Linked DNA regions of Homo sapiens: regions 1 and 2 are each linked to region 3. Evidence: fine-mapped expression QTL. A gene starts in region 3. Each other region holds a variant in brackets. All regions are shown on one strand. Distances are between the middles of the regions.

Evidence for each region.
Region 1: its variant is fine-mapped to the expression of SLC38A4-AS1 in whole blood (INTERVAL, PIP above 0.99).
Region 2: its variant is fine-mapped to the expression of SLC38A4-AS1 in whole blood (TOPMed, PIP above 0.99).

Annotation. Positions count from the first base shown.
Region 1 is chr12:46,479,638-46,490,274 of GRCh38, forward strand. The region is part of intron 3 of SLC38A4-AS1 (SLC38A4 antisense RNA 1); the gene reads left to right. All of the region lies in intron 1 of LOC124902923 (a long non-coding RNA gene), which reads right to left. Among named protein-coding and RNA genes, the nearest start is that of SLC38A4-AS1, 100 kb to the left of the region's middle. RefSeq lists a silencer at 10,349-10,637. The variant C/G (reference allele first, on the strand shown) is at 4,857.
Region 2 is chr12:46,431,957-46,442,593 of GRCh38, forward strand. All of the region lies in intron 2 of SLC38A4-AS1 (SLC38A4 antisense RNA 1), which reads left to right. The region is part of intron 1 of LOC124902923 (a long non-coding RNA gene); the gene reads right to left. Among named protein-coding and RNA genes, the nearest start is that of SLC38A4-AS1, 54 kb to the left of the region's middle. The variant T/C (reference allele first, on the strand shown) is at 5,688.
Region 3 is chr12:46,377,660-46,388,296 of GRCh38, forward strand. SLC38A4-AS1 (SLC38A4 antisense RNA 1) reads left to right here and starts at 6,017. Exons shown (of 4, transcript NR_125380.1): 1 at 6,017-6,036; 2 at 10,088-10,313. RefSeq lists enhancers at 5,381-5,888, 8,582-9,083 and silencers at 5,443-5,802, 5,953-6,022.

The DNA.
Region 1 (10,637 bases), 100 kb after region 3:
TTCTTTACTCCATCCTCCCAACCTTTTGGATGACTTCCTTGATCCGTAGCTTAAGCATCACTTCTTCCAAGAAGCCTTCCTGACTCCCTGGGCCATGTTTGATTTTCCATCCGGTTGCTCTCAGTGCACTCTGAACTCTTCCCATGGTAACATTTATTATGCCATACCATAATTACCTATTTACAAATATGCACAAAGATAGGAATCAGTTTACCATGTTCATTTGTGCATCCCCAACTTCTAACACAAATCCTGTCATCAAGCAGATGCCCAATTAATATTTGCTGGATGAATTAAAGAGAAATAACTTGGATTCAGGTATTAATGATAATTGATTATTATTAGCTATTGGTTCATATGAATAGTTGGTGTTCGTTGAGCATGCTTAACATTTTATTCTATCTCTTTCATCCTTAAAACAACCAATTAAAGACCGGCAGTATTATCCTCACATTACAAATTAAAATCTGAAGCCCCTGAAAGTTTAGAATAACTTGCCCAAAGTTATGTAACTGCTAAACAACAAAATCAAAATAACCTGGGGCTACCTAAGTGAAACACTCATTCTTTTAATTTCTATACCAGGTATGATGAACTTTCTGGATCTCTTTGTTCTCATAGAGCCTTCACAGAAGGTGGGTAACCAGAGAGGGATGTTGCTTAAGTCAGAGTCATCCTGAGCTGAGCCGTTATCTGTTCACCTATAAGGCCAGCTTCCATTTGCTGGGCCTGAAATGGAGCTCAAGACTTCAATATTTTCTTCAGTTTGTTTGGATGTATGTCAAAAAGCTTTTCTGAGAGTAAGCCTCCTAGTAGGTGCTGACCGAATGCTCCAGCAGTGGGCTCCTGTGTACCAAAGGGACATTGATTGATGGTGTCCACAGAGAGAGGGACACGAGGAGTCTGGAAATTGAGGTGTTGATCATGCTTTGTCAGGAGGCATTTTGCATTCTCTTTGTGATTACTAATCCATTTGGGGAGTGGCCTTGTTTTTCATAATATTTCAGGAACTACCACAGTGAATTGTGATCCTGGGATTTACATTATCATTGTAGCTCAGTGGAAATTCTGATAGACTATTGTTTCAGGACATTTTGGGGATTCATAGTCTAGTGATTTGATGTGACTTTAGGGATTTTGATTATGCCATTTTGGCCTGTGCCAGTCATCTTTATGATGGGTTGAACAGTTAAATAGAATGTCTTCCTCTTGTAAAACTCCAGACATATGCCAGATTTCATCTCATGTATTCTTCACTGCATCCGTCTTGGGCAAGAGAGTGGCAATTGTTCATTCTTTTACAGTGAGAAGGACAATGGGGGCCAGAGAGGTTAATTGGCTTACCTCATTGGGACATCCAGATTACAGTAGCTCAACATCATGAGTTTATGTTTCTGAATCAGACTATTTCATCTTACTGGAAGTGAAATGCACACTTTATATTTAAGGGTCCACAATTCTTCCATATATTTGCATTCATTCATTCATTCATTCAATGACTATGGAGAAACTACTCTATGCCAGGTACTGAGGATAGAGCAGGAAATAAGACAGACAAGCTGTTAAGGAACTGATATTCTTATTGAACAGAGGGAACAGAAAACATCACGTAAACATATTTAAATTTTTCATTTCAAATAGTAATGTTCTATAGATAAAATAAAAACAGAATAACAGGATAGAAGGTACCTGGGATAGATGAAGAAACAATCACCAAAAAGCTTCCATTAGTTGGTATCATATGAGCTAACAGCAAAAGGATGAAAAAAGCCAACCTTGAAAAATCTAGAGGAGACCATTTCAGACAGAGAGAACAGCAAGGGCAAAGGCCCTGAGGGTAGAATGAGACTAGCATGGTCAAGGGCCAAAGAATAGAAATGCCAGATCTTACAGACCATGGTTCAGAGGGATACCTTAGAGGATTTTTAAGCAGAGAAGTGATGGGGAGTTCATCTTTGTTATGACAAGATCTCTTCGATTGCCATGCAGAGGTGGACTGAAGGAGGCAAAGTATGAAACAGAATAGGAAGAGATTATTGCAGTGGTTCAATGGAAGATCATTTTTTATTTTTAGTACTTAATTATGTGTCAGACATTGTAAGTGCTTTCCACACGTTTCTTATTTAATGCTCACAAAATTCTACAATGTAATTATCTTCATTTTTTTAGATAAAGAAATAGAAGGTTCAGAAGTTTAAATATCTCATACAAGGCCACTTAATCTAAGTGGCAGAACCAGGATTTAATTTCAAAGTCTGTACTGTTAAATGTTCTTTTCTAGCCCTGGCATATCTTAATTGTCTGCTGGGCCATTCCCCATGGATGTCCCTAAGACACTTTCAACCTATTATATCCAAAATCAAACTCATTGTCTTCTTCCCTAAACCAATTTTTTCCCCTTAGTTCCTCAATTATATTAATGGCATCACTCAGACTCAGTAATCCAGGCTAGGAACACTAATGTCTTCTTAACTGTCTTCACACTGTGCTTTTCTTCATTAATCTGCATCAAATTTGTTGCATCCTTTTATCCATTTAAAGTATTATCTATCCCATTTCTATTCTTACCCTCATTGCCTTGGTTTGGGTCAGTTCAACAATTCCAATTCCAACTGACCCAATTGGGGAAATTTATTAGTTCCCCAATTCCTATTTCTGTCCTCTGTAATCTATATTCATCTTGCCTTTGGGTTTAGTTCTTATCCTAAACCCAAGTTACATTATCCTCTTCCTTTTCAAATTCATTCCCCATTGGTCCCCATTGCTCTTAGAATGGAATTCACTCTTTTTAGCATGGCAGTCAATTTACTAATAATGGGTAGTTCATTTGTTGCTCTGAAGATTGCTTATTATTTTAGCTTTGACTTACTTTTTTTTGCCACTGATAACTCTCACCACATATAACCAGTCATGCAAAGAGGAAGGTTAGGAACACGCAGTCCAGCAATTCCTGATTGAACTGTTTAGATGTCCAGCATGAGCTATGCTAACCAATGGATGAGACACAGTGTTCAAGGGCCAATAGGTGTTTCCATAGCCTCCTGGTAGAGCTTGTTGACCTAACAGGTCTGGGAAGCCACTCAACTGGATGCATTTTTGTTGGATTGAATTGCATGGAAGGTATACAAAGAAAGACCTGAGTTTTAATGACACACCAAAAAGAAAAGGCAGCCAATTCTTATGGATAGGAGTCCTTTTATTTAAAAAGTAAATGGAGATTTCTGGACAGCAGGAAATGCCCATTGCGTGTGAGATTTATCCTAATTCTATATTCAGTTTTGTTTATAGGCAACAGGTCCCTGTGGGTTTAAGTACTGAATAGAGGGCTAAGAAACAGGGGAACTGTGTGGTTATTTTCTGAGTTGAATTTTCAGACTTATAATTTAGGGATTTAATTCTGGTTGTTAGAAACCAGCCAGCATTCTCTGTCTTTAAGCACTGGTAGTCACCAGGCAAATATAAGGTGAAGTCTTTTCTGGCTTAACCCCAGTAAAGATTTCTCAAATGTATGGTGGTTTTTTTTTCAGAGATGTTCTCTGGCCTACTAGATAATGAGAAAGAACATTTAATAATAAGTTATTTTGTTCTACCATTTCTCATTAAAGAAATAAGAATTTTTAGTCTGTTTTCAGTGATGCTGAAGGAGATAAATTGTTTTCTGCTAGTTTTAAGAACTGTGCTAGCAGTTGTTCCCTTTTTTATTTCACAGAATAAATAATAGTTTTTAAAGATAAGGTAGCAAAGCTCCGTATTTTCTATATTTGATTTTAAGGTGGAGGATAATTTTTTAATGTCTGTAGTATAAGTGAATTATAATTTTAAGCAAAATATACATGTTTAGCTGACAATCTTGTATTGTACAAATAATACTATAACAACAATAACAGAAATCAACCAAGAAAAAAAGAAAAGAGAAAAAAGTCTCTTATCTTGCCATTCTAAAATCAGCTGTTTTAATGTTTCCTTCCAGTTACTGTCAATATGTTATCTAATTTTCACATAGTTACAATCTTAGCATAGACAAGACTTTATAATCTTTTTTTTGCGTCTAATGTTACATAAGCCTTTTTTTTCCACACCCACTTCACATTTTTAAACCCTAATGTGCTTTTGTAATAAAATTGCTAGACAATAATAGATTTCTTCAAAAAGGGTCACTAAGTTCTGGAAATGAAAGGTTTTCCTTGGATTTCTCAACATTACCATATTGTGGTGAATCACACTTTACTGTTTCAGCTAAAGACAACAGTCTGCCAGGGGTCAAACAGAGCTCCTAAGATAAACAGTCCTAGGACACAAAGGGCCATAACATCATCTGTGAATGCTGAGACCTCAATTCTCCTTACCTGTTCTAACAAGAGTACAAAGCTCATTAGATTTTACCCTTATGTCATTGAAGCTACTGCCTAATTTAATGGCAAGTAAAGTAAATGCATCTCGGGCCTTTGGTTTGCTACATTTACTAGGTACTCAATAAAATAAAGGCCATTGATAACTTTAGCATAGATTCTAATGACAATGCAGAACCTACTGTGCATTCAGTCTTCCCAAAGCTCCCAAGCTATTCCACCAAGGGAAAGACCGTTTTGTCATTAGAGGCAAAGGGAGGGTTTTTTCTTTTTTTTTAAGAGACAGGGTCATGCTCTTTCACCCAGGGTGGAGTGCAGTGGTGTGATCATGGCTCACTGCAGCTTTGAACTCCTGGGCTCCAGGGACCCTCCCACCTCAGCCTCCTGAATAGCTAGGACTGCAAGTGCGTGCTAGTACTCTTAGCTATTAGTACAGGCCTGGCTAATTTTTATTTTTATTTTTTTTTGTAGAGATGGGGGTGTGAAAGGAAATGAAATCTTGGGACC[C/G]TAAACTCATTAAGCCAAAGGGAAAAGCTGGGCCGAGAACTGGATGATGCAACCTGCTTCCACCTTTTTGCTTCCTAAATAAGATGGCTACAAGATGAAAAGCTATACATCTCTGCCATATTTTGCCCACAAGGAAATTCCTAGTGAGCTTCAAGATCTTTTAAGGTGTTTCTGTTAAAATTTCACAATTTCGCCATTGCAATGTAAATTTATAGCTTATCCTTACAGGTGCAGTCATCTCCCTGCCCACCAGACACAAAGGCATATCTGATTGTTCTCCTGCCCCATTTTGTCTATGTTATCTTATGTAAAATACAGATACCCTGCATTTTTCCTCTGCCCCATTTGTCTATATCACCTTATATAAAAAAATGCAGAGTCACTGAGCCGGACAAAGGCATGAACGACTATTTTTCCCTACCCCCGCTCTTACATGAAAATTGTGTACTTCTGAATATCCTGCCCTTTCCCCTTTAAATTTGGAGCCCTCAGAATCATCTTCAGAGAAAGGCATAGACCTGTCTCCCGGGCATACATCCTTAACTGTGGCAAATAAACCTCCTAAAATGATTGAGACTTGTCTCGTCATTTTTCTCGATTGATATTGGTCTCACTATGTTGCTCAAGCTGGTCTCAAACTCCTGGGCTCAAGTGATCCTCCCACCTCAGCCTTTCAAAGTGCTGTGATTACAGGTGTGAGCCACTGCACACGGCCAGGAGATGTTAATCAAAGGGTTTACATGCTGTAAAGGCGATGTATAAAGAGTTATAGGGATCTTTCGTTTGCTTTTCCTCATATTTGTTGAGAACTGTGTAGGAATTTCCCATGGATTTGATATTTGCCCATTAACAGACACCAAGAGAAGTAGTCAGAAAACATTCCCTAAAATAAAGTGTGAGCCAACTCAGTGGTCTTCTTTGGAAGAGACCTGAGGGGAGGGAAGGTCACGTAGTGATAAGCAGGGATGCAGACTATGGGGTCTGACTCATGAACTTCATATGTCACAGTTAATAGTCAGAAGACCATGGAAGGTCACATCCAGGCACAGGGACCTGGTGAGGCGTGTGTGTATGTATCTACAACACAGAAATTAAGATGCGCCAAAGAGAGCAAGTGACAGGGCTCTCTCCCTATTTCTCACTTGGCATATGAGATGACCTTCAGGAGCTTCTGTTCTGTATGTCCCATTTATTAGACCAAAGTGTTCTAGAGTTTAATGTGCTAATATTCATAAGCTTTGTTAATTACAACATTATCATCTCTGCTGTCATCATCTTCATCAGCCTCAGCCAGGGAAGACCGAATGTCCTTGGCCAACGAGGCCTGCAAAAATATGAATTTTACCTCAGGCTCGCCTAGTTTTTAAAAAATAAATATTGCTGATAATGATTTACTGGCATTCATAGATGAGATGACAAACTGCTCATCAGGCCCCCACTAATGCAAGGACGCAATGGCCAAATGACCAAATACTGGGCTGTTGCTTACAGGACAAGCTGGATATGCTTACTTCCACTCTAACCACAGCTGGGCTACTGTGGTTTGCTCATTCATTCATTCCTTCATTGAGGAAGTACTGGTAGAGTGTCTACTCTGTGTCAGGTATTGTGCTAGAGGCTGGGCTCTCTGCACGAGCAAAGCAGGCGAATCCTGCTGTCAATGAGCCTTCTGGTGGAGAAGACAGGTGTATTCTAAAAATCTCATACGTAAGTGCAGAAGTAAATCTGTGTTGGGTGCAAAAAAGGAGACTGCGGGTGCAGAGGAAGGGGTGGTGACCTGGGCAGAGGCTTCTTCATGAAGTGATGATTGACCCATGGCTGGAAAAAAGATTAACAAAAAATTGCAGACATTTACGAAGTGGGCATTATGTGCCAGTCTCAGATTTTAGTGCTTTCTATGAATAATCTCTGTGAAGTATGGACTCATGTTAACATACAGGTGAGAAACTTAGGCTTAGATACAGTATATAACTTGTTTAGGACCCCCCAGTGGGTGAGTAGAGGAGTGGGTTTTGGAACTCAGTTTGATTCCAAAGCCTGGGGTCCTAATCACCATGATATAATGCTGTCTTCTATTCTCCCTGAAGTAGAAGTTAACCAGGTGGAAAGGATGGTGGGAAGGAAGTACCAGGCAGGTGGAACAGCATGTGCAGAGCCCAGAGGTGGAAGAGAACTGGAATTATGTGAGGAAGCACAGAGAAGACACACTAGCCAGGGCATGTGGGTGGGGGAGAATGTGGGGTGAGGCAGGGAGGTGGGCAGAGCCAGGCCACATATTGCCTGAACAGTCAAGTCAGACTGTGGCCCTGCCCAAGAGGAAGTCACTGCAGGGATCTAAGCAGGAGTGACCATGATCAGAGTTGAGTTTTGAAAAGGTCACTCTAGCTGCAGTGCAGAGCTTAGAAGGGGGCAAAAGCAGATTTGAGGAGACAAATTAAAAGCCCTTTGGTTGGGGGTGAAGTTGAGAGCAATAGAGGTGTAGAAGCAAGTCCTGACTTTTGAACTTTGGCAGTTTTGATGGATAATGATATCATTTATCGGGCAGGGAACAGTACAGGATGACACTGTTTGGAAGAAAAGGTCATGAATTTGATTTGGGCAGGTTGAAGTTGAGGAGCCTTGAAGGTATCCACGTGTTTTCTAGTAGGTAGTTTTATATATAGCTTAGGAGCTCAGGAAGAGGTTAGGGCAGCAGACAGACAGACATTTGTGGGTAATTCCAGGAGAGGCGGTAATTGTGCCCATAGGCATGGGTGACAGGGTCTAGGGAGAGAATCTTTGTATTTTCACTGCCCCTTCCTATGCTTTCTTCTTTCTAATTTGCTTCTGAGGAGTATGTGTCCTTTTTCTTTGTCAGGTTAACCCCTCTAACTGCCAGCCTGATTCCCTTGACCTTTCCCCATCAATTCTTCCCTTGTCATTTCCATCTTCATTCTATAATCCTCTATCAAACTCCCTAAAGTCCATTTCTGTGCTGTGTACCTACTCATTTTTCACTATCTTGAATGCTGACTTTTCTATTCTCAGCCCCACTAAAGTGTCTTTTTCAGAGGCAACTGTTGACCTATGCACTGGATCCAAGTGCTCATCTCAGGCTATGCGTCTCTGGCTTCTTCTTAGCATTTGATTGTTGCTTCTCTCATTTAAGCATCCCCCTCTCTGCTTCCCTGGCATTCTTTTCTCAGTTCTCCTTTCTCTTTACATACTTCTCTTTCTACTTCTCTATACATGTACGTGTCCTCCGGAATGTTTTCTTCTTCCTGCTTCTAGACCTACACTTGCTACCTCAGCTATCTTGTTCAATCCTGTGGCCTTAACCATCACTCCCATGAGGATAGTACTCATATGTATCTTTCTTGCCAGGACCCGAGTACCTCAGACCCGAATATCCAACTGATGGCTAGACACCAATGGCATCTCAAACTCAGCATGGCCCATACCAAATATTTTCTTTTCCTCTGAAACAAGTCAGTGTTCTACACTGTCAATTTCAGTTGAGTTCCTCTTTTTTCATTAATTCTCTTGAGTGCTACCATACTTCCTTTTACTTCTTACCATATTTCCTCTTACCTCTTGCCTGGGTGCTTTGCAGTTGTCTCGAAACCAGTCTTTTTCCTTATTCGATTTTGCTCTGAATGAATTGTCTCTCTCTCTCTCTCTACACACACACACACACACACACACACACACACACACACACACACACACATATATTTCTTTTTTTTTTTTGAGATGGAGTCTTGCTCTGTCACCCAGGCTGGAGTGCAGTGGCATGATCTCAGCTCACTGCAACCTCCGCCTCCCAGGTTCAAGCGATTCTCGTGCCTCAGTCTCCCAAGTAGCTGGGACTACAGGCATGCACCACTATGCCTGGCTAATTTTTGTATTTTTAGTAGAGACAGGGTTTCACCATATTGGCCAGGCTGGTCTTGAACTCCTGACCTCATGATCCGCCTGCCTTGGACTCCCAAAGTGCTGGGATTATAGGCGTGAGCCACCAAGCCCTGCCGAATTCTATATTTTTACTTTAAATGAACTGTATACTCAATCCAGATGATATTACTCCTTAGCCTAACAACTTTAATGATCCTCTATTGTCACTGAATTAAATACTAACCCTTAGCCTGTTTTTAAGGACCCTCTTAACATGATGCTGGCATAGCCTCCCACCTTTATCTCCTAATACCATCTGACATATATGAGCCACATATGGCAGCCTTTCCTACAGACTGTGTTACACTTGAAGGCAGACATCTGTGCCTCAAAATCCTTGTATCACCTATACTTCACACTTAGAACACAGTAGTTACTCACTAAAGTTTTGTTGTGTGCATGGAAAATTATGTACTAGTTCATATGACTGTCTGATAATTCCCAGTCCTTGTGTTTGCTCGTGGGGTGCTTCTGACATGGAGGGACCTCACCTTTTTGTATGCAAAAGTGGATGATGTAGGCAAAAGTGTCATTTAAAATTGTGAATTTATATCTGTATCTATAGCTATATTACCAGTTTATTAAAAGTCTGCTCAACCTTTGACTTAAGAGCCATTCCATTTTGGGAACTTCAAAGTGCCTCTCTTTCTTACTTTAAAAAAAAATTATTTTAAGTACTATAGAGCAAGAAAATTTCATGTGGTCCCTAACCTTATATCTGTGTTGTATTTGATCATGAGGTTTACTTCTGTTAGACCTTTGATTCTTAAGAGTAATTTGAAGACTTGCCATCCCCTCTGGTTCCCCACAATCTGTTTCTGATCCCTAGTTCCCTGCAGTATTTCCCAGCAATCGGCCACTTCATTTAGCATTTTGTGAACTGGGGTTGCGTCTTGCTCAGATTTAGGTCCCTGAAGCACTTAACATGATGGCTTACCCATAGAAGTTTCTCAATATTTGCGGATCTGAATTAAGTGAAATGATATATATGGCTACCAATATCTTCCATTCTAAGTGAAAAATGAGTCAAAGATTCAGACCTATGTTTATTTTGTTTTCAATAGCCAGAGAAAAAGTGACAATGATCTTCTCATGGAATTGGCAAAAGGAGCAATGTAACCATGTGTACCACAAAGAGTAGCTGTCTCTGCCATTTGGTTTGGAGAATAAATGAAATGAAGCCATTATGAGGGCGGAAACATAAATATTATGCAAAAACAGGCATGTTTCGGTGGAGTTAATCTCTGTGCAATCCTTTCCTTCCAAGCCCAGCAGCTCTGCTGGATTCTAGTTACCAACCAAGCCCTGGGCAGGCCCTTCAAATGCATCATGGCCTTGTTTCTATCCCCAGGCTGGTAAGTCAGTTACATAAAATTACATGTTGTTTTCAGGAACCTGTATTTGTGATTTGAAGTTGGTCACTCCTTAATTGGCTAACAGGTATAATTCTAGAATTTTCCTAATTATTCCCATGAATATAAAATGTTTTGAACCTTGTAGGATTTTTTTTTTCCTCTGGGATGTGATTTACTCCTGGCTGCTCTTTTTCAAAAAATAAACTGGATGATGGCCAGAATCATAGGGTGAAAAAATAGCCCTGATGAAAGTGTTCTGGACAACTCTTCCAAAGCAGCCACTGGATTATGGGAAAAACGTTTACAGGGAGAAACCACAGAGCATGGTAAGCAGGTTCAGATTTGGTCATCAATAAGTCTATTGTTCTTATCTGGGAACCTTTTTGTTCATGGAAGTCCTTCAAAAGGGCCACACCCCTTCAGTTCTGTAGAGGTTCCCAGACAGTGACTTGGGGTGGAAAATAAAAGGAGGACTTTTTGTTTCTGACGGGGA
Region 2 (10,637 bases), 54 kb after region 3:
TGCCAACACATTTATGTAAGAAATTACACTACTGGTCAGGAATTTCCTGCTGTATGTCATTTTTTTTTTTTCTTATGGAACTTTTCAATAGCTTGTAATGGGCTGTTGTGCCTCCTCTTCAGGCTTGGCTGTTATCAGTGCCACTCAGATATCCCTTCCTATTCAGTGTGGAGTGCTTTGTGACACTTATGAATGGGTGCACCTATTTTTTAACTATTAGAATGTTGATTTATATCACAGAAGACTCATCATTTCTGCTTCCCTACACATAGGCCTGTTGTAAGAATTTACTGGTTTCAAACATGTATTAATTATATGAACTTGCAGGAAAAGAATGCCATAAAATTGAAAGCTACATGTGAGTTTTATAAGAGATAATTTTCTACCAAAATAATATGCAAAGGTAATAATTGGGGAAAATTTCTAGGCAGATGGGGAAAGAAATTCAAGTGTTTCTAATTATGTAGATAATGCTGAGTGAAAGGAAGAGCACTGTAGAAGGAATACTTGATGTGTAGCAGAAAACCAGAGTTTGAGTCTAGGCTCTGCCGTCTGCTAGATGAGCGTGGGCAAGACACCTAGGGCTGCAGTCTCATATACTTCAGCTGTAGAAATGGCCACTGAATCATATTTCTTAACCTCTGTTTTATTTTATTAGGAAAAATGTAACACCCCAGGAAATTTTAGTTTGCAGACGTGGTGTAAAACTTTACTTATGCAGCCTTATTTCAGTACGCTTGCGTATACAATCGAAGTATTTAGCACTTCAATGTTTGCAGAGATAATTGGCAAATAGAAAGTAATATAAAATAAATAAGTAGATTTAATGTTTTCTAATTTTCAATGGAGAAATATGGTTATATATATTTTTAAATTAGATTCAGCAGTAGGAGATTCAATGAATTACTTAGCCTCCTAAACATAAATCAGCTTCATCCTTCTCCTTTTTTTTTTTCAATTTTATATCAACAAACTGCCAGGAATGAGAGAAAAATTAATATTTCCTGAGAATGACTTTTGCATCAGTTGCATGCAACTGTTGTAAATTGTATCCTATCAGATATTTTGATTCACCTGAATTAAAACTTCTGATATATTATACCGGCCTAAAGATTAAAAAAAATTTTCTGACTTTCTTTCAGACCTTAAAAATGGATTTAATTTCCAGAAATGCAAGTGTGGGTAAATACAGAGATTATAATGAAATGCTTCATTGTGCTAATGGATAAAAGGGGAAAATCAACTAGAAGTATGTGCTTTTGGGAAGGAAAGGACAAAATTATTACTCTCAGTAGGTGATACAATTGTCTATTTAGTAAAACTACAAAATCAATTGTAATACTTTTTGAAACAATAAAAAATTTAGTAAAAAGACAAGTTAAAAGTTAAAATATATGAAACTCAATAGCTTTCTTATATACCAAACATTACCAATAATAAAATATAAAGGAAAAAGAAATTTATTCTCACTAGAACATACACTGCATGAGGACAGAAACCATTTTTTTTTCACAGCTGCATCCCCAGCTCCTATAACAGGGTCTGACACATAGTAGACACCATAAACATTTGTTGTGTAAATGAATTCGTGGTAACAAAATATCACAAAATTATTAAGAATATTCTTAATATGAAATTCATAGGATCTTTAATCCTATATTTCATGGAAAACTGGTATGTGAATTGAGTTGGTGAATTCTCAGAAAGAAGGATAGTGGTTATATGTAGAATGTTTTTCTCCACCAGACATGGATTCATTCAATAAATATGTTTGGGGATCTACTCTGTGCTTGGCGGTGTTCTAGCCACTGTTCTAGGCACCAATAGACAAAAATAGACAAAAATCTCTGTTGTCATGGAACTTATCATCTCATTTGGAGATATAAACAATATGCAAATGAATAAGTAAAATAGATAGGATGTCAGATGGTGCAAAATGTTAAGGAGAAGAATAAAGCAAAGAAGGGGCTGTAGAGTTCCAGGGTTTGGACAGGGGATGGAAGTAGACGGAAGTGGCAGCTGTGAATAGGGTGCTCAGGCAAGATCTCACAGACAAGGTGGTATTTGAGTAAAGACCTGGAGAAGGTGAGTCATGTGGCTATCGATATTAAAAGCTACAGTAATTAAAACAGTGTGGTCGTAACTTCAAAGAGACACAGAAAAATAGAACAAAATATTGAGTTCAGAAATTGGCTCAAATATATGTGAAGATTTAGCATGTGATAAAGTGGCCAAGAAAATGGACTGTTTTTAAAGAGTGCTGGAACAACTTGCTAGCCATTTTGGGGGAAAAAGGTAAGTTGGGATCTCACCTTATCCAGACAAAAATTACAAATGGATAAAAAGTTTTCATGTTAAACCACACACATTAAACAGCTGAAGAATGTTTAAGTATATATTTTTATACAGCCTTTGACTAGAGAAGGCCTCTTAAAGCATAATAAAGCCAGAAAATGAACAGAATGGTCCACAGATTAGACCATATAAAAGTTTGAGGTGGCAAAAATAAAACAAAATAAATAAAAAATTAAAATCACCACCAATAAAAGTTAAAAAAATACATATTACAGAAATACTATATTTCCTTATTCTAGTCCCCACTCTCTTTCAAAAAATGAACAGAATGGTCCACAGATTTGACAATATAAAAGTTTGAGGTGGCAAAAATAAAACAAAATAAAAAATTAAAATCACCACCCATAAAAGTTAAATTAAAAAAATACATATCACAGAAATACTGTATTTCCTTATTCTAGTCCCTGCCCTCCTTCTGAAGTTAGTGTATACATTTAATGTGGTGATGTCTCTTTCTCCTTGCTCTTAGGAACTATTAAATTGATAGTATATATTCTAATAAACTGCCTGTTAGAGAGCAGACTAAGGTATATAGAAAGCTTTAAAAAGCAACATATTTTTGCATACTCAATAGCAAAAGTAAAAAGCCTATGAACACAGTTCACAAGGAAAGAAATGCAAATAACTAAAAAAAGGGAAGAGATGTTAAACCTTTTGGGTAAAAAGGAAAGGTCAGCTGAAATTGCATTGATATGCAATGTTTTACCCATTGGATTGGTAAGCCCTAAGAGGATTGTTATGGGAGGCAATGGGAATATACAACATTCTCATTTACTGCTAATGGGAGTGTGAATTTGTACAGCCTTTCATTAAAACTGAATATGTTTATGCCTTTTAAATTTCCTTGGATTTTTTTCCCTAAAAGGATATAATTGCACAAGTGTTCAAAGATAAGAATGTATGTACAAAAATGTTTATCTCAGCATTGTTTGCAATAGTAAATAACTGGAAATGATCTTGATGTCCATTAATAGAGAAATGGTTAAATAAGCTACAGTAGAATGCTATGCAATGTGGAATGCTATGGAATGCTATGCAGTTATTATTTATTTATATGGGAAGATGCCCACAATAAATTGTTTATCAAAAGGCAGATTACTACAGCCATTTTGGAAGACAGTTTGACACTTTCTTACAAAACTAAGCATCCTCTTATCATATGATCCAGCAATTGTACTCCTAGGTATTTACTCAAACTTAACTTCACACAAAAACCTGTACATAAATGTTTGCAGTAGCTTTATTCATAGTTGTCAAAAATTGGAAGCAACCAAGATGTCCTCAAGTAAATGAGGATAAAACAAACTGAAGTATATCCAGATAATGGAACATTATTCAGTTATAAAAATAAATGAGCTATTAAGCCATGAAAAAACACTGAAGAATCCTACATGCATATTGCTAGGTGAAAAAATAGCATTTGGCATTCTAAAAGGCTACATACTCTATAACTACAAGTATATGACATTCTGGGAGGGGCAAAACCATGGAGACAGTAAAAAGATCTGTGATTGGCAGGGATTGGAGGGAAGTCAGGGAGGGATAGATAAGTGGAGTGCAGAGAATTTTTAGGGCAATGAAACTATTCTGCATGTTGCTGTAATGGTGGATACCTGACATCATACATTTGGCAAAACCCATAGAGGAATGAATCTTAATATACATTTTAGGTAGTAATGTATCAATATTAGTTTATCAATTGTAGTAAATGTACCACACCAAAGCAAGTTGTTAATAATAGGGGAAATTGGTGGTGAACAGAATGGGAATATATAGGAACTCTCTACACCTTCTGGTTAATGTTTCTGTAGTCCTAAAACTGATCTAAGAAATAAAGTCTGTTAGTTAAAAAAAATGCATGTATGATCCTCTTTTTATAGTTTGTGTGTGTGTGTGTGTGTGTGTGTGTGTGTAGGGGGATGTGTAGAAATAAGTTTGGAAGGATAGCATCAAAATGTTAAGAGTGGTATCTTCCAGTGGTGAGACTGTGAGAGATTTTCACTTTTTAATTTATGTCTTTTTATACTGTCTACAATGTTTTATATTCTTATGATCAGAAATAATACAATTTCATTTCAAAAGCAAAAACATAAGACAACAGCACCAACTAAAAAAGAGAAAACTAACAAGAATAAAGTAAAATGAAAAAATAACCCGTAATTCTACCATCTAAAGATAACTACTATTAACATTTTGGTATATATTTCAGGTTATTTACAATAAATTATGTAATATGTGAAATATATAGATAGATAGATACACACATTAAATACAATTTTACAACACAATCATAGTTTATATATGTTCCACAGTGAGCACATCTATAGGGACCTATCCCAAAGGCTTAAAAGTTATCCAACTGAAAGTTGACTTATACATTTTTCATTTACAAAATACAAGGCTCCTAAGTTGTCTAACTTATCCTGTGATGACTAGTGGCTGCCAGGATTATGCAAATATTTTCAGAAAAACAAATATGCTTAATACGTCTCTTCAAGGTAAAAATGACATTTTAATAGTGAATGAGAAAGCAACTGCTTTTCTAACTTAATTTGCTGTTTTGAAAATGGATGTGGTAGCAGCCTCTGAGGTTGCTGCCACTGATCCCCTCTTCCTGGCATCCATGTCCTTGTCTAATCCCCTCCCCTTGAATATGGGCTGGACCTGTGACTCTAACAAACGTTTGAATGTGACACAGGACTTCAGTTCGTTTCAGCATTTCAAACAAAACAACTTCATATTCACATAATATTTCATAAAATTCTTTCCTATGCATAGTTCCATTCAAGCATCCCAACCTCTTGAAATAAAGAAGAGATATAATATTTGTTTCTGTTTTAAGTGAGAAAATTAAGGGCTCAGAGAGATATTAAATGATTTGTTCAAGGCCTGTCTGACCAGACGGCTTGTACCACAATTCAAATCCTGCTCTGCTGACTTTAATTCTCAGTCTCCTTCATTCTAAAGGACGATTCTACTCTTCAGTCTTTAGACTTTCCAGAGTGGAGTAAAAAAGTGGCTGGCTAGGCTTTTGTGGTCTCAGATTCTGGTACCTGTGTCACTATAGCACAATATTCTAGTCTATATAGAGTGATTCCTCAATTGATGTTTGTTGATAATATGGAAATTTCATTCATAGCAAATTGTGGTGGTGTTAAATACTGTCATTACTTTACTTATCCACGTAACTCTATGTGAGATTAAGATTTTGGTAACTATCTGGCTATTTTGATCAAGGCAGATACCTGGTAATTGATATGTTAAGGCATTTTTCTCCCTGAGTTATTGGATGATGAAATCATAGAAAATTAAACCTAGTAGCAAACATTAGA[T/C]GTGCATATTTGAAGACAGATTTTTTTTATAGCTGTACTATGAGTTATTTTTTTTCTGTCAAATATTATTTATGAGGAATGTTGAGGTAACTAGAGAGGAAAAATGTCATAGAAAACAGTTCCCTTCAGATGATCTAAGAGGTTCATGTTGTATACAATGCACCTCTTATCAGAAAGTTATTGGTGATACCATTTCTTTTCCGGTAAAGCAAAGCAAGTCTTCATTTTTACATATTTGACATCTCTGAGTTACTTACTGATGTCAGAGAGGGCATCCTTGATGTATGTTTATTCATATATTTTCAAAAAACAGTACAGAAAATTTTCCATTACTGAAGAAATAAATCCACAAAAACCAAAGGCTTGAGAATATTCCTTTAAAAAGATAATTTATTGACTTTTGTGCATTGGGGATTAACCAAATCTGTAACTAGAGATTAATCTGGAGAAGGGGGAGAGAGGAATAGAATGTGAATGGGACAGAGGCAGAGGAGGGAATGTGAGGGAATTAGGGCATTAGTGCTGCTGGAAGGGTGTGAATATGACTTGTTGAGGCTTTCTGAGTTTCAGGCTCTGTGCTACGTGCTCTGCATATATATCTTCTTCTTAATCTCTGTAACAGACCTATGAGGTGACAGACATTATTATCCACAGTTTTCAAATGAGGAAACTGGCTCAGAGAGGTTTCAATAAATGACCCAAGATCACACAGCCAGTAAATAGCAGTCAGGATTTGAACTCACAGATGTTTGTACTTCAAGTCTGTGTGCTTTACCGTACTGCATACGTCTGTCTACAGAGTGCTGATTTTACAGATATTTTCCCCAACTTGGCTATTGGTTAACTGTCCAGATTTGTTTTTACATGAGTAACGCATGCTCCAGTTTATTTTTATTCAAAGATAAGTATATATAAAGAGATGTAGATCCTTTTATGGTTTGCTGAAATTTATTTTGAACTTAGTTCTCGTGCATCAGAAATACCTTATTAATTGAAAATAGACCCATTAATTACTGTGTGGGATGTGAAAAAATGCATTCTTTGTAAATTTCTAGTTTTTCCTTTGGACTATGGTAATTTGCATTTGTCCTATGCTTTTGGCAGTAGCCACAGATTTCAAGTATTAAACATAAGTGAAATACTGTATGTGATTTTCTATATTGTATGGGAGGAAAAAAGTCAATCTGGGGGACAGATCCAAGTGATGTGAGACTCCAGCTGAAGGCTCAGGTCCCTCTAGGGAAAGTCACAGCAGCCTGACGGTGTAGGAAAATGGCACTCTGCTGCTGTCAGTTTACTTGGCAGTGCCTGGCAAAGAGCACAGGAAAAACACCAGAGCAGCAATGAGCAGTTTTTCAGCTGCCAGAGAAAAAGTTTCACAAACTGGGAATTTTACAAAGGTACACTAATGTCTGATACTAATTTATTCATCAAATATTTGTTGCATAGTATATGCTGAAAATACAATGCTGAATTAGTCATTGTTCCTGCTTTCAAGGAACACACGGGCCAGACGGGAAGACAGTCTATAAATTTCAGTAAAGGGCGTCAAGGGCCATAGTCACAGGGCCTTATGTGAGCACCTAGGAGAGGTACCTGGTTTCGCCGGAAGTATTGGGAAATGTTCCAGAAGAGGGAATATCTATTCTAAGCCAGACTGTCTATATAATTTGCGGAGTCCAGTGCGAAATGAAAATGTGGATCATTTGTTCAAAAACTATGAAGAATTTCAAGATGGTGACAGCTGAGCATTAGATAAAGCACAGACACTTCTAATTGAATTTCCTTCTACTTAGACTGTAATACCCACAATGGGAAAATTCGAAACCATTGTTTAACAAAATGAACCCACTCTGGGCATTTATGCTGTTTGTTTCCTTTGAAGTATTACTACATAGCAAAAATCTAAGGGTCTACAATAATGTATTTAAATCAGCCTGGTGTGGCCATGATAATTTTGGAAGAACAATATTAGAATGGGTCATGAATGTTTAGTATTTGTTGCATTTCCCCCAGAAAAGGAAAGTTTCTGGGAACTTCAGGGAATATTTAAATACTTTCTCCAGCAGCCTGTTGCCTCTGAAACAAATAATTTATGGAAATGATAAAAAGCAAGTGTTAGTATGTTTGTTGGAAACGAAAACAGAAACCCTACCTGTTGATTACAAAAGCAGAGAACATGGTATCCATGGAATATTGTATTACAGTATTTTTCACAACTACTCACTGTACCCTTTAAAGGTTGTATAATGCCTGCTGGTAGCAAGGTAGCCATACGATTTATAGTAATTCCCTGAGGAAGGACTCTATCTATCCTTCTCACTTGGCCATGTGACTTGCTTTGGCCAATGGAGTGAAAGGACGTGATGTAAGCCATGTCTGAGTAGAAGTTCCAGGCAAATGCTTTAAGGGCCATGGCAGTTGGCACTCTGCTTTCCCCCTGCCACAAGTTCAGCATGTTCCCCGGAGGAGTTCTTTCTTCAAGCCTGGATCCTGAAAGAAAAAGCCATGTGGAGCACAGTCATGGCCAACACATGAAATGTGAATGCGAAGTAAACCTTGGTTGTTAAAAAGCCAGTGAGATTTTTTGGGGTTATTAATGACCATAACTGGGTGAAAATTGGCTAACACAGTGTTTTTATTTATAATAGGGCAATGAGTCACAAATACATCATTTGTCTAAAGGACATTCAGCGATCTCACTCCTCTGGGGAATGACACTGCTCTAATAATGATGATCATATAGGTTTTTCCAGAGGCAGATACACTGGGAATTCTGCTAATGGTAATCTGATCTGCTGGGAAATCAAGCTGAGTCCTCCAGGCATGAGTTGGGTCTAAATGGCTAAACCCCTGTCCTCACTTCCCCACCTGGTCCAGCTGCTTGCTGCCTACTTGATCTTAGACAAGTTGCTAAGCCTCAATTCCCCAATTTGTAAACTTGGAATAGGACTATTTACTTCATAAATTTGTTAGGACAGGGTCAGCTTCTATTTCTTCTGTATCAATGCCATTTTCCCACACAGTTTCTACCCCTCTGATTAAATTAGCTCTTGTTTGACTTTGTCTATCATTTTTAATGTAAAAGAAGTAAGACATTTGTAGATTAATATTGAGCTTCTCTTTGTTTCTCCCCAAGTATCTATTCTTTCTTCAGTGACAACAACTACCTCATAAAGGGTATATACTTTATTTTGATATTGGATATATATGCATATACATACATAAGTTAAAATATGCATAAAACCATGTTCTGTACACAGGAAAAATTTAGGATAAAAGAATTAGTGAAATCTTCTTTTCTTAAAAGGATTATGGTGGGGGAAGTGGGTTCACTTCTCCCTATGAAGCTGTTAATTCTTTTATGTTACTTGGCAAAGCTTGCTTGCTTTCTCTTCCTTTTTTCTCTCTCTTTCTTTCTTTTTCCTCTTTCCTTTCTTTCTTTCTTTCTTTCTTTCTTTCTTTCTTTCTTTCTTTCTTTCCTTTTCTCTTTCTTTCTTTCCCCTCCCTTCCTTCCCTCCCTCCCTCCTTCCCTCCCTCCCTCCCTCCCTGCCTCCTTCCTTCCTTCCTTCCTTCCCTCCCTCCCTCCCTTCCCCCCCCTCCCTCCCTCCCTCCCTCTCTCTCTTTATTTTTTTATTTTCTTTCTCCTCTCTTTCTTTCTTTTTTTTCTTTTTGAAGCAGGGTCTGGCTCTGTCATCCAGGCTGGAGTACAGTGGTGTGATCTTGGCTCACTGCAACTTCCACCTCCCAGACTCAGATGATCCTCCTGCCTCAACCTCCCAAGTAGCTGAGACTAACAGGCATGTGCCACCAAGCCCAGCTAATTTTTGTATTTTTTGTAGAGACAGGGTTTCGCCATGTTGCCCAGGCTGGTCTTGAACTCCTGAACTTAAGCAATCCGCCTGCTTCATCCTTCCAAAGTGCTGAGATTGCAGGCATGAGCCATCGTGCCTGGCCTGGCAAATTTTTCTAATTGTCACTATCGGTCAAGTCCTGTCCTACGAACTGAGAATAAAGAGTGGAACTGGATAGAAAAAGGCCTGCTATCTTTTAGCTTACCTTCTAGTAGGAGGAAGCAGACAATAAACAATTAAGCCAATAAGTAGACCCAATAAAAGGCCAAAAAACATGAAGTAAGAGTCCTTGGGAGAGCTCTCTACTGAATGGATAAGAATAATGTGTTAATTTATAGCTGTTTCAAGGAAGAGTAGCAACATTTATTGAGCACCTGCTAAGTTTCAGCTAGTTTATCTGTACTCTTTCATTTAATAATTGTAATAACCCTGTGAGTAGGTCCATTTTATAGGTCAAAAACTGGACATTCACAACTAGAAAGTCAACTAACTTCCCCTCAATTACCCAGCTGATAAATTCAAGAGTGGACCTCTAATTCTTACCTCCTACTTCTTCCTCAAGCCCAGTAATCTCTTTTAAGTAGGAAAAACATATCTCTTTCTGCTTACCCTCACCTATATCCTCAGTTAGGCTTTTTTAGATTATAAGTGATATTTTTCTTAGAATAAAGTTAAATTTCAGCTTTCCCTGCATTTACAGGAAATATTCTTTAAAAACAGAGCACTGGACTTAAATTCTGGAGAACTACCTTCAAACTACTGTCCTGCTACTCAATACCCATGTGGTTTCCGGCAAGTCACTCAACTTCTATGAGCCTGTTTACTCATCTGTAACAGGAGATAGTGCCAGGTATAAGGTTTTATGATCCCTAGTTTTGAACTAGTGGGGTCTGGCTTCACAGATTTTACTATACTTTGCACACTAATATTGCACACTGACATAGAGTCTCTCTCTGGTGATGTGCACAAGGATTTATATAACTCAGATCACTTCCACAGCACAGTGACTCAGAGCCCCTGGAGTATGAAAGACTGAATCCCTAAGTCTGGCTCACGAGCAGTAAGATCTCCTTTTCCTCTGCATTTTACCTAAGTG
Region 3 (10,637 bases):
GAACCTTTCCAAGTCAGAATAACACCATGATTCATAAGGGAGCTCAGGCCCCAAACCAAGGAACCATGTTGAGTCCTCCTTTTCCTCAAATAACCAACCCATCACCAAGTCATGAGGGCTCTGCCTCCACATATATTCAGAATTCTGTTGCTTCTCACCATCTGCATTGCTCTGGCCCTAGTGAGACTATCATCTCTCTCAAGACATCTCCTGAATCATAGCCTAACTCATGTGTGGGTTTCCATTCGTGGTGCTCACACACAGTCCATTCTCTGTGAGTCATTTAGTAGCCATATTGGTAATCGGATTGAAAAAACAGTACATAAAGGGTTTGGTACTATCCGCAGTTTTAGGCATCCACTGAGGGTCTTGAAATGTATTTCAAGCAGATAAGGGAGAACTACTGTATCTTTATGCAGCTCCCTTCTTATCATTTAGATCTTATCTTAAATGTTACTGACTCAAAAAAATCTTCTTTGGCCATTCCAGCAAAAGTTGCTCCTTGGACTCAAGCTCCATTCCCCACTGTCCTATTTTATTTTTTAGTGCAATGTGTGAAAACACATTATTTGTTTGTTTGCTTATGATCTTCTGCAACATTAACTCCATGAGGAAAAGACTGGTTTGGCTCATTATTAAATGAATCTTCAGTGCCTAAAACAGTGCCTGATACATAAAAAGTGTTCAATAAGTGCTTGTTGATTTAGTACTTTCAACTTTTTCCCTCAATGCCTAGCACAAAATAAACTCTGAATCCATATTTGTTGCAATGCCTTGATGATAGAAAAGACAGTATTTTTTTTCTCAGACCCAGTCTTGTCTTGTCTTTTCCTTCCCTCCCTCCCTCCCTTTTTCTTTTTTCTTTTCTTTTCTTTCCCTTTCTCTTTTCTTTTCTCTTTCTCTCTTTCTTTCTTTTCTCACTCTGTTGCCCAGGCTGGAGTGCAGTGGCACCATCTTGGCTCACTGCAACCTCTGTCTCCTGGGTTCAAGCTATTCTTGTGCCTCAGCCTCCCTACAGCTGGGATTACAGACATGCGCCACCATGCCTGGCATTTCAGACCCAGTCTTTTGTAAAACACAAGCATGAGGATGAATTCCAAGGCTTGCTTTCTAATGGCTTTTTTTCACCTAATTAAATGCCCCTTTGCTATGCACACAGCCTCACTCCTTTGTCTTAGGACAGTGTTATTCAAAATTCAAGTATGAACACTGGCATTGTGGAGAGATAGTGAAATTACTTTTTCTTTCCTCCATCTCCCTTCAAACCACACCCTTCCCCTTATTCCAATGACTTCCATATTTTCTTACTGCTTTTTTTTTTTCTTTCTTTCTTTTAAGAGACGGAGTCTCACTCTGTCGCCCAGGCTGGAGTGCAGTGGCGCGATCTCGGCTCACTGCAAGCTCTGCTTCCCAGGTTCACACTGTTCTCCTGCCTCAGCCTCCTGAGTATCTGGCACTACAAGTGACCGCCACCACGCCCGGCTAATTTTTTGTATTTTGAGTAGAGACGGGGTTTCACTGTGTTAGCCAGGATGGTCTCAATCTCCTGACCTCGTGATCTGCCTGCCTTGGCCTCCCAAAGTGCTGGATTACAGGCACGAGCCACTGCGCCCAGCTTCTTATGTATTTAACTTAATTTTTTTCCTCAAATAGTGAAGACTGGAGAATAATTAAATGTTTAAAATTGGCTAATAAAAATTGTATCTATCATGTACAACACGATGTTTTGAAATATGTATACACTGTGGAATGGTTAAATCGAGCCAAATAACATAGGCATTACCTCACATACTGATTTTTTGTGGTGAGAACAGTTAAAACCTATTTTCTTAGCAATTTTCAAAATACAATACATTGTTATTAACTATAGTCACCATGTTGTACAATAGAGCTCTTGAACTCATTCCTCCTATCTAACTGAAATTTTGTTATCTTTTGACCAACATTTCCCCAAACCTCCTCCCCTCCACTCCCTCAGTCTTTGGTAACCATCATTCTATTCTTTACTTCTATGAGTTTGAGTGTTTCCGGTTCCACATACAAATAAGATTATGTGATTTGTCTTTCTGTGCCTGACTTTTTTCCACTTAGCATAATGTTCTTGAGGTTCATCCATGTTGTTGCATTTCCATATTTTTAATATTAATCTTTCCAGGTGCCTGAGGAAATTCTTGTCTCAACTCTTTTTTTCTTTTTATCATTTTGTATATATTATTCTTGGGATCATATTTAGAAAGTGCTTGATAAATGAACGGTTGTATTCAATCTTGTAAGATAGCTCTCAAGTCTAAAGCAACAGTACGGACTCTGGGAGTGCTTTGCTGACTTTGGCATGTTTTTCTGGTGTTGACAGATACTCTATTAGATATCAATTGCTATGTAACAAATTATTCCAAGACTTAGTGTCTGAAAGCAACAATAATTTATTATCTCTCGAAGTGTCTATGAATCAGGAATTCAAGAGCAGCTCTGTTGGGTGTTCTGGCTTTAAGTCTTTAATGAGGTTGCAGTCAGCTGTGAGAGGGCTCTAGTCATCTGATGGCATGACTGGGGCTGGAAGATCTTCCAAGGTCATTCACATGTTGGTAAGTTGGTGCTGGCTGGTTGCTTCCTCTCCAAGAAGGTGTCTGCACAACCCTGACTGAATGTCTTCATGACATGGCAGCTGGCTTATCCCAGAGCAAGTTAGCAAGAAAGAGCAAGGCAGAAGCTGCAATGCCTTTATGAACTAGCCTTGGAAGTCACACTTTATCATTTCTACCATATTCTATCAGTCACAAAGGCAAGCCCTGATTCAACATAGAAGGGGACTACACAAGGGAGTGCATACCAGGAGGTAAGCATCACTGGGGGCCATTTTGGAGGCTGGCTACCACAGAGAAGTTGTCAGCAGCAAGAATATTTTTATTTTATTATTTTATTTTATTTATTTATTTATTTATTTATTTATTTATTTATTTATTTTTATTTTACTTTGAGACAGGGTCTCACTCTGTCGCCCAGGCTGGAATGCAGCAGTGTGATCAGAGAGCCCAGGTTCAGGTGATTCTCCCACCTCAGTCTCCTGGGTAGCTGGGACTATAGGCACAGGCCACCACGTCTGGCTAGGCTAATTTTTTGTAGAGACAGGTTTCAGCCAAGTTGCCCAGGCTGATCTCAAACTCCTGGGCTCAAGCAATCCACCACCTCAGCTTCTCAAAGTGCTGGGATTATAGGCATGAGCCACTGTGCCCAGCCAGAAAACATTTTATGGCAATAAACACAATATGCAATTGAAAGTGGCTTAAATAATGACACTATCTCACATAATAAGAAGTATGTAGAGAGCACAGTTCTGGGGTTAATTCTTGGCCCTGATACCTCCCTCCAAGACAAAGAGCTCATTATATTTTCACTTTGCTTTCTTCAACATGCTGGGGATCTCTCCCATCATGGTCACATGTTGGCTGCAGTGGTTTTAGGGGTCATAGGCAGACAGGACCACATCCATTGCAAAAGAAAGGAGCGTCATTTTGTGAGTTAATTTTATTTTGAGAGATAACATTTCCTGGAAATGCTGTTATTGTTGTCTCAGATCCCACTGGCCAGGACTGGAAAACATAGTAATGCCTAAAAAATATATTATATTGTAAATCCATATATTTGCAAGCATCAGTATTTTGTAAATGCATACCTCATTTTTCAGCAAGAAAAAGAAAATTAAGGGGCCCACAGAAACTCAGTCTTAAAAAAATTTAGAAATATGGCTGGGCGCGATGGCTCATGTCTGTAATCCCAGCACTTTGGGAGGTCGAGGCAGGCGGATCACCTGAGGTCAGGAGTTTGAGACCAGCCTGGCCAACATGGTGAAACCCCGTCTCTAGTAAAAATACAAAAATTAGCTGGGTGTGCTGGCAGGCGCCTGTAATCGCAGCTATTTGGGAGGCCAAGGCAGGAGAATTGCTTGAACCTGGGAGGCGGAGGTTGCAGTGAGCCAAGATCGCGTCATTGCACCGCAGCCTGGGCGACAAGAGCAACACTCCGTCTCAAAACAACAACAAAAAATTTAAAAAAATTTAGTTTTACAGATACTTTAGTACAAACATACCCAATTCTGTCAAGACTGAAGAACTTTCCAGGGACCTAGTATCAGAACTCTGTTTCTCCCATCTCCTTCCCAAATAAAAGAGGGGAAATAACGGCTTGACTAATGACCTTCTTGTGATACTTACCTGTTGGCCTTTTCATTTGACCCTGGAATGGTCTATTTTGCTAGGTGTAGTATATGCCAATGAATGTGAAAGAAAACAATGGCAGAGAGATGAAGGATTTATAGACAATGGTTCTTTGGCTAGGTAAACTGACACCTGCTAATTACCAATAAGTGTCTTGGAAAGTGAAATGTGAAAGCAAAATCACAGATACGATTCTCATATACATGCTTAAGGTTATTCAGAATGTGGTAAGGTCACAGCAACAATCAAGAATTAAGCTAAAAAACAAGCTGTGTATATTCTTAGTAAAGAAAATAGAAGTTTTATTGAAGTGCTCCATTGTTTTAAAAAATTAAAAATTTCAGATCCTTACAATTTTCCAAAACAGGATCATTAAAAAATACCTTTATTTTAATACTTGTTAGGGGTCTTCTTGTCTAAAGAGAAATGACAGTGACTGAAAGAAGGTGTGCTACCCAAAGCACTCGTAGGCCACGATGAACCTACATTCCTGGCCTTCAGTCAGTTTCCGGATCTTTCTTTGCCCAGGGCTAAGATACTGAAATAACGATTTATTAAAATTAACACACCTGCAATTCTGGTTCTTAGATGGGAACCATTTAATATATGGGCTTGGTTCTGAGATCTTTACTCAATAAAACTCCCAACTGTTTTGACTGACATCGTTGGCACTTCGTGACTGATTAAGGCACCTGCCTCCGGTTCCATGTCACTTCGTCTTGGGACACGTGGCGCTAATGCCACTTTTCAACCCCCCACCCCATTCAGCGACATTAACCCGGGCGACAGTCCAGGGCTAAACAGTTGCTGAAACAGTTAAATGTGTGTTTTATTGAGGTGAACCACGTACACAACAACCCCCTTTGAGTGAAACAATTTTGTTGTGTAACCATTTGTCACTTCTACATGGATGAGGTCAACGAAATCCTCAAAGTTGCTGTCTCAGGAATAAATTTTGTTCGTGGTTGGGAAAACGAAGTGGAGAATGTTATGGGATAGAGAAAATAGCTTATTTTCTCAGTGGTTAAGTGGGAGTGGGTAAAACACAATTGGCCTTGCATGTGCTTTGTTTAAACGGCGGTGCAGTAATTCTAAATGAGAAGACAAGACGCCCATCGTCACCGTCTTCTCCCTTTGTCTCACATTCCGCCCGGAGATGTGGGGGGTCTCACTCAATGCGGAACGGAGGTGGCGGGGGTGCGGCGCCCCAGAGGCGAAGGCGGAGGCGCCAGGACGCCGCTCCTGGCCTCTCAGGATACCAGCAGGCTACACGCAAGGTCGGGGGCAAGGCCGCGTGGCGGCTTGGAGCCGCGCGAAGGAAGCGAGGGCTGGCGGCCCCAGGGCAAAGGGGTCTGGCGGCGCCAGCCTGGGGCGCTGCAGCGGGCGGGGCGTGCGCAGCGCCGCTCCCCGGAGAGAAAGGAACCTCCGCAATGTCGGGGCCCGGCTGCGACCGGAAAACGGCGGGGGAAGAGAGAAAAGGAGGAGGGAGGGGGAAAAGGAGGTGGGGATACGAAGGAGCGGGGAGGCGGCGGGCGGGGCCTGCGGCGCGCAGCCCCAGTAGATCTCCGGAAATTTTCCACTAACGCTCCGAGCGCCAGAGCCGCCCGGGCGCAGCCCGCCTCTGCGCGCCCGCGACCCACGTGACGGTGATTCATTCGGCACCGCCTCCCCAGCCCGCGCGCGGACTTGGAGCCAAGAGTGGGAGCAGGGGTCGGGGGGAGGAGAAGGTGGAGGAGGAGGCGAAGAGGAGGCGGGGAGGAGGCGGGGAGGAGGGGGGAAGGGTTCGGGGAGAGGGAGGAGGGGAAGCAGAGGGGACGATGAGGTGCGGAGGCGTTGGCAGGTACCTGGGCCCCGCCGCCCGGGTGTGTGGGGGTCGGGTCGGGGGTCCAGCAAAGCCCCATCCAGTCGAGCCTGGGCAAGCTGAGAGGCTGTCGGGTGCGCTCCAGTTACGCTCCCCTGCGTCGTGGAAAACCTAGAGAGCCCTACAGCGTCAGGGCTAATCCCGGGACGCCTCGAGGCCCCGCGGAGTTTTCGCGAACGCGCCGGGCGGTGCAGGGATGTCCTGCTTGGGAGAGTGCAGGGTTGGAAGCGGGCACGCCCTGTTGGCAGCTGCCGGCGCTTGTGTACGTGGCTGCTGACGTGGAGAACTGTAGCTGTGGAAAGCCTGCGCCCCAAGGAGGGACGCGGGGGTGCAGTCGCGGCCCATTATCTGTGCCCGGGAAGTCCTGAAGGCTCTAGGAGCTGTCAGATTAAACCCCCAGACCCACAAGAAAATCCCTGAAGCTTCGGTGAGCGTGGGATTTGGCGTGCAGTTGGTTCCGTATGGTTCCCCATTAAGACTTGGAAGTCGGCTTACCAAGATTTCCTCTTACCCTTCGGCTGTGTTGAGTAGATATTACACAGACACCCCGCCCATGACTCTGCTCTTGCAGGAAAACATTTATTTCAAAAATACTGCAACGGTTTCATCTCTCATGTCCTTTTAGGTTCTTTCTAGTAATTGTGAACTTTTCCTCTCAAGTCATTCCATCAAAGTCTTGGAAGCAAATGAAAAAAACATACTACCCTGAAATAGAGTTCACATCTTTCTTTACCAACTTGCCTTTCCCAGGAAGACATCGTGGTGGGTTTGCAGTTCAGGTTTCCTCACAGCCTCTCCTGGGGGTCTTTTTCCCTCTCTGGTACCTTGAGGCATAGGACAGAAGGGAGCTGCTGAAGTTTCTGGATGTCGCTTATTTTTCACATTTGTTTTAACTTCTTTTGGCCAGAACTGTGTATTGTTTTCGCATAGATTTCTGCAATTAGAATTATTGTAATTAGAAAGAATAATAATCTTCATATAAGGCTTAGGGTACGCACTACTTTAAGGTCTTTGTAAATGTGTGCATATTCATTTCTCTCATCAACTCTGAGGTAGGGGCTATTCTTACCCCATTATTGACCTTTTACAAATGAGGAAACTGATGCTTGGAGAAGTTAGATAACTCGCCCAAGGCCATTCCTTCTCTAAGAGGAGGAACTGGAATTTGACCCCAAACTGTCAGGTAAATCCAATGCTTTGTTCACTATGCAATAGAAATTCTTTATTAATAAATTTAATTGTGTTGAAATATTAAGTTTACATTTTGGTGGGATTTTCCCCCTCGTTTTATTAAAGTGGCCTTCCTGAATTTTATTGTGGAGGGATGTTTAAAGTTAGTTTGGGTAGAAAGCCACACACAATTGTAAAAAGGAAGTCTTATGAAGAAATCATGCATTCCAAGGCAGTGTTACATTTTTCTTAAAGGGTAGATTATTGAAATATTTGACCTAAGAACTCATTTTTTTTCTCAGGAGAAAGGTTTGTCTTCATACACCTTTAGCCCCGAGCAAATGGTGAATCCTCCAGGAGAATGACGATGAGGCTTTTTAGTCTTCAGGGTTCGATAAATATATATCGATTGAAATGTATTCAAAAAGTGAATACCCTTGAAAGGACGATGACATAATGCCAAATGAAAAGGAAATTTCCCAAAGAAACCTAAATAATGGATAGATTTGATAGCAAGATACTACTGGTTTTTTCCTTCTGGAACCTTCTTTTCTGCACTTGAAACCTTCCCTGTCCAGCCAAGACTGGGTTAGAAGCTCCTTTTGTGTGTTCGTGTGGCACCCAAGGTCTGCCCCTGTAGTGGTACTGACCACGGTGTATTCTCGTGGCCTGTTCACCTGGCTGTGCTTCCCAGGAGAGTAAGTGCCTGGAAGAGCAGGCATTCTGTCAGGCTCAACAGAGTGCAACAGCGTGTCCCCAGGGCTCAGGACAGTTGTTTGTCCTAGAGCTATGGGAGTTATTGAGCTAAGCAATACTTGTTAAAAGCATGAGCTTACACAATTGATCAGCCATGTCTTGTTAGGATGTACTGAATTGGAATTTAGCAGAAACTGGGAGAGCAATGTCCCCGTCAGGAAATGTCTGTTCAATCTTGGTCTGTGTATATCCTACTTACCCACATGTTATTTTGCACATAATAGTTTTTTTGATGTTTATTAAGAACAAAAACAGCCTCTTTAAAATTGTGTGTTCAGTTAGCTAACTGTATTTCAGCATCCAATTAATAATCAGAGGTTTAATAACTACAGCCTTAATTCTGGCCTCACAATGATAGAATGATAAAATCATAGGTTTTTTTTTTTTTTTTTTTTTTTTGGCTGAAGGAGATCTTATAACTGCTCTGTCCAATACACAACCACTGGCCACATGGCTATTTGAATGAATTAAAATTAATAAAATTGACAATTAAGTTCTTCAATAGGGCATTTTAATTGCTCAGTAGCCACATGTGACTACTTAAATAAAATTAATTTTATTAATTCATTCAAAAATGGACAGCACTGACAGATAGTTCCATTATTGTAGGAACTGTTATTGGACAGGGCTGATAAGTTACCGAAGGAAAAAAAACAGGTAAAAGAAGATATTTGAGATAGCTTAGCATTAGCATTGTTACATACAAAGAACATTACACTCATATTCAAAGTGTCTGCTGTTAGGTTGGTGCAAAAGTAATTGCGGTTTTTGCCATTACTTTTAATGAGGAAATATTTCGTATATGATAAACAGTTTTCCTTAGCAGTTGTACCTAAATTAATGCACATTTAAACATATTCAGGAGAATGAATGGTTCAAAAGGATTCCTTTTTGCATTCCTTTAAAGTGAATACTCATTCCAGTTGATCCTTTGTGAGTTCTATTTTTTTTTCTGTTTAAACATACTGAAATCAACTTGAGTCACTACACAAGTTTGACATTCATTAGATTTGGCTGTGCTTTTTAAGCTCGCATGATTGAGAAACTAAAATACTCAGTAATGTTGGTAAAGGACAAATGCCAGATAGTTTTGGACAGACCAAATATATATTTAATGACATCACACATGCAATACAGACAGTTCTCAATTTACAAACACTCTTGAGAAGCAGCCATAGGTTAAATATAAAACATACTGGGTGTACCTTCTTTAAAATCCTCTTAAGAACAGTACCACCTGGATATCCATTGTATGAACAAATTAGTATTTAAAAATAATAAAAATAAGTCTTAGAATTAGAGAATGTATAGTTTTGAGCTGTGGAGGCAATAAAGAGGCTGTGTAAAACTCAGGGGGAGTTAGTTGAGGTTATTTCCACAGTAGAGCAGATTTGCTTAAGTAACCCCCTGACAAAAATAGCTTAGTTCCGCCTCCCCGCAGCATGCCTGCCCCTCCCTGCTGTGTGCATTTCCCCCAGTCCTTCAGTCGTTAAAAATTTTCCCATTTCATTTATACTCCAGTTTCAGTTCCGTTGATTCAAAGTTTTGGGACTTAGGACAAGTTTGCTAGCTTCTCTGAGCCTCAGTTTTTTAAACCGTTAAATAGGAATAACAGCATGCTGAGTGCCAAGAATTAAAGAAAAATTTATGTGAAAATATAGATTAGAAAGAAAACTAATATAAATGCAGGGGATTATGATCATAATACTCATAAAACTTCAGTACTCCCTGGGAAGATCCAATGGCCGTCAGTCATGTGCACGTGATCAGAATCTGGGCCATCATATTTTTTTAAGCAAGTTGATGGCCTGAGGGTTCTTGGCCAGGTGGGAGGAGGCTGCTCTGGGATGTTGAAGAGAGATTTTAAAAAGGAGATGGAAGGCTGTGAAAACATAGTTCAAATTGGAGGGAGCTTGGGCAGATACCACCTTTTCTTTTAAGGAATGAATGTAATTGCTTGCATTTTGTCTCTACTTCCTTCCTCTCATTGATTTATTCCGAAGGCTAGAGTTTCTACTTTACATTCTAATTCATCTGACATAGCGTGTTTTTAAAAAACTTAGCATTGCTTGCTTTGATTTTCCAGTTGACTTTTGCTGATGGAGCCTCTCTGAAGGGCAAATTCAAAGTACAGCTGGGTGCTGCAGCACTGGAGTGCGAACTTGTGGCTGTGGTTATGAAGGAGCCTCGTCAGCTATGCCTTTAGCCCCTGGTGAAGCAGTGCCAGTCACACTTTGCCAGTCAAACGGAGAGGCAGCAGTAGTAAGACCAGACCAAATCAAACCAAACCAAGCAAACCACGGGGAATGGAGGTAGGTGAATAGCGCCAAAGAGAATGATGGCTCACAACACTTCTAAGCATGGTGCATATATCAGTTCATTTAAGCCTTATGATGACCCTATGGGGTCAGTACTATTATCGTTATTATCCCCAACTGAGGCACAGAACAACTGTGTGACTAAGCGACTGTACTCAATGTCACACCACTGTTAAGTGATAGAAGTGACATTTTAACTCAGGCAGCTGGATCTGGAGTTTGTCCTCTTAACTACTACATTAGCAATTCTCAAACTTTTGGTCTCAGGACCCCCTTGCAGTCTTAAAAAGTATTGAGGACCACAAAGAGTTTTGTTTA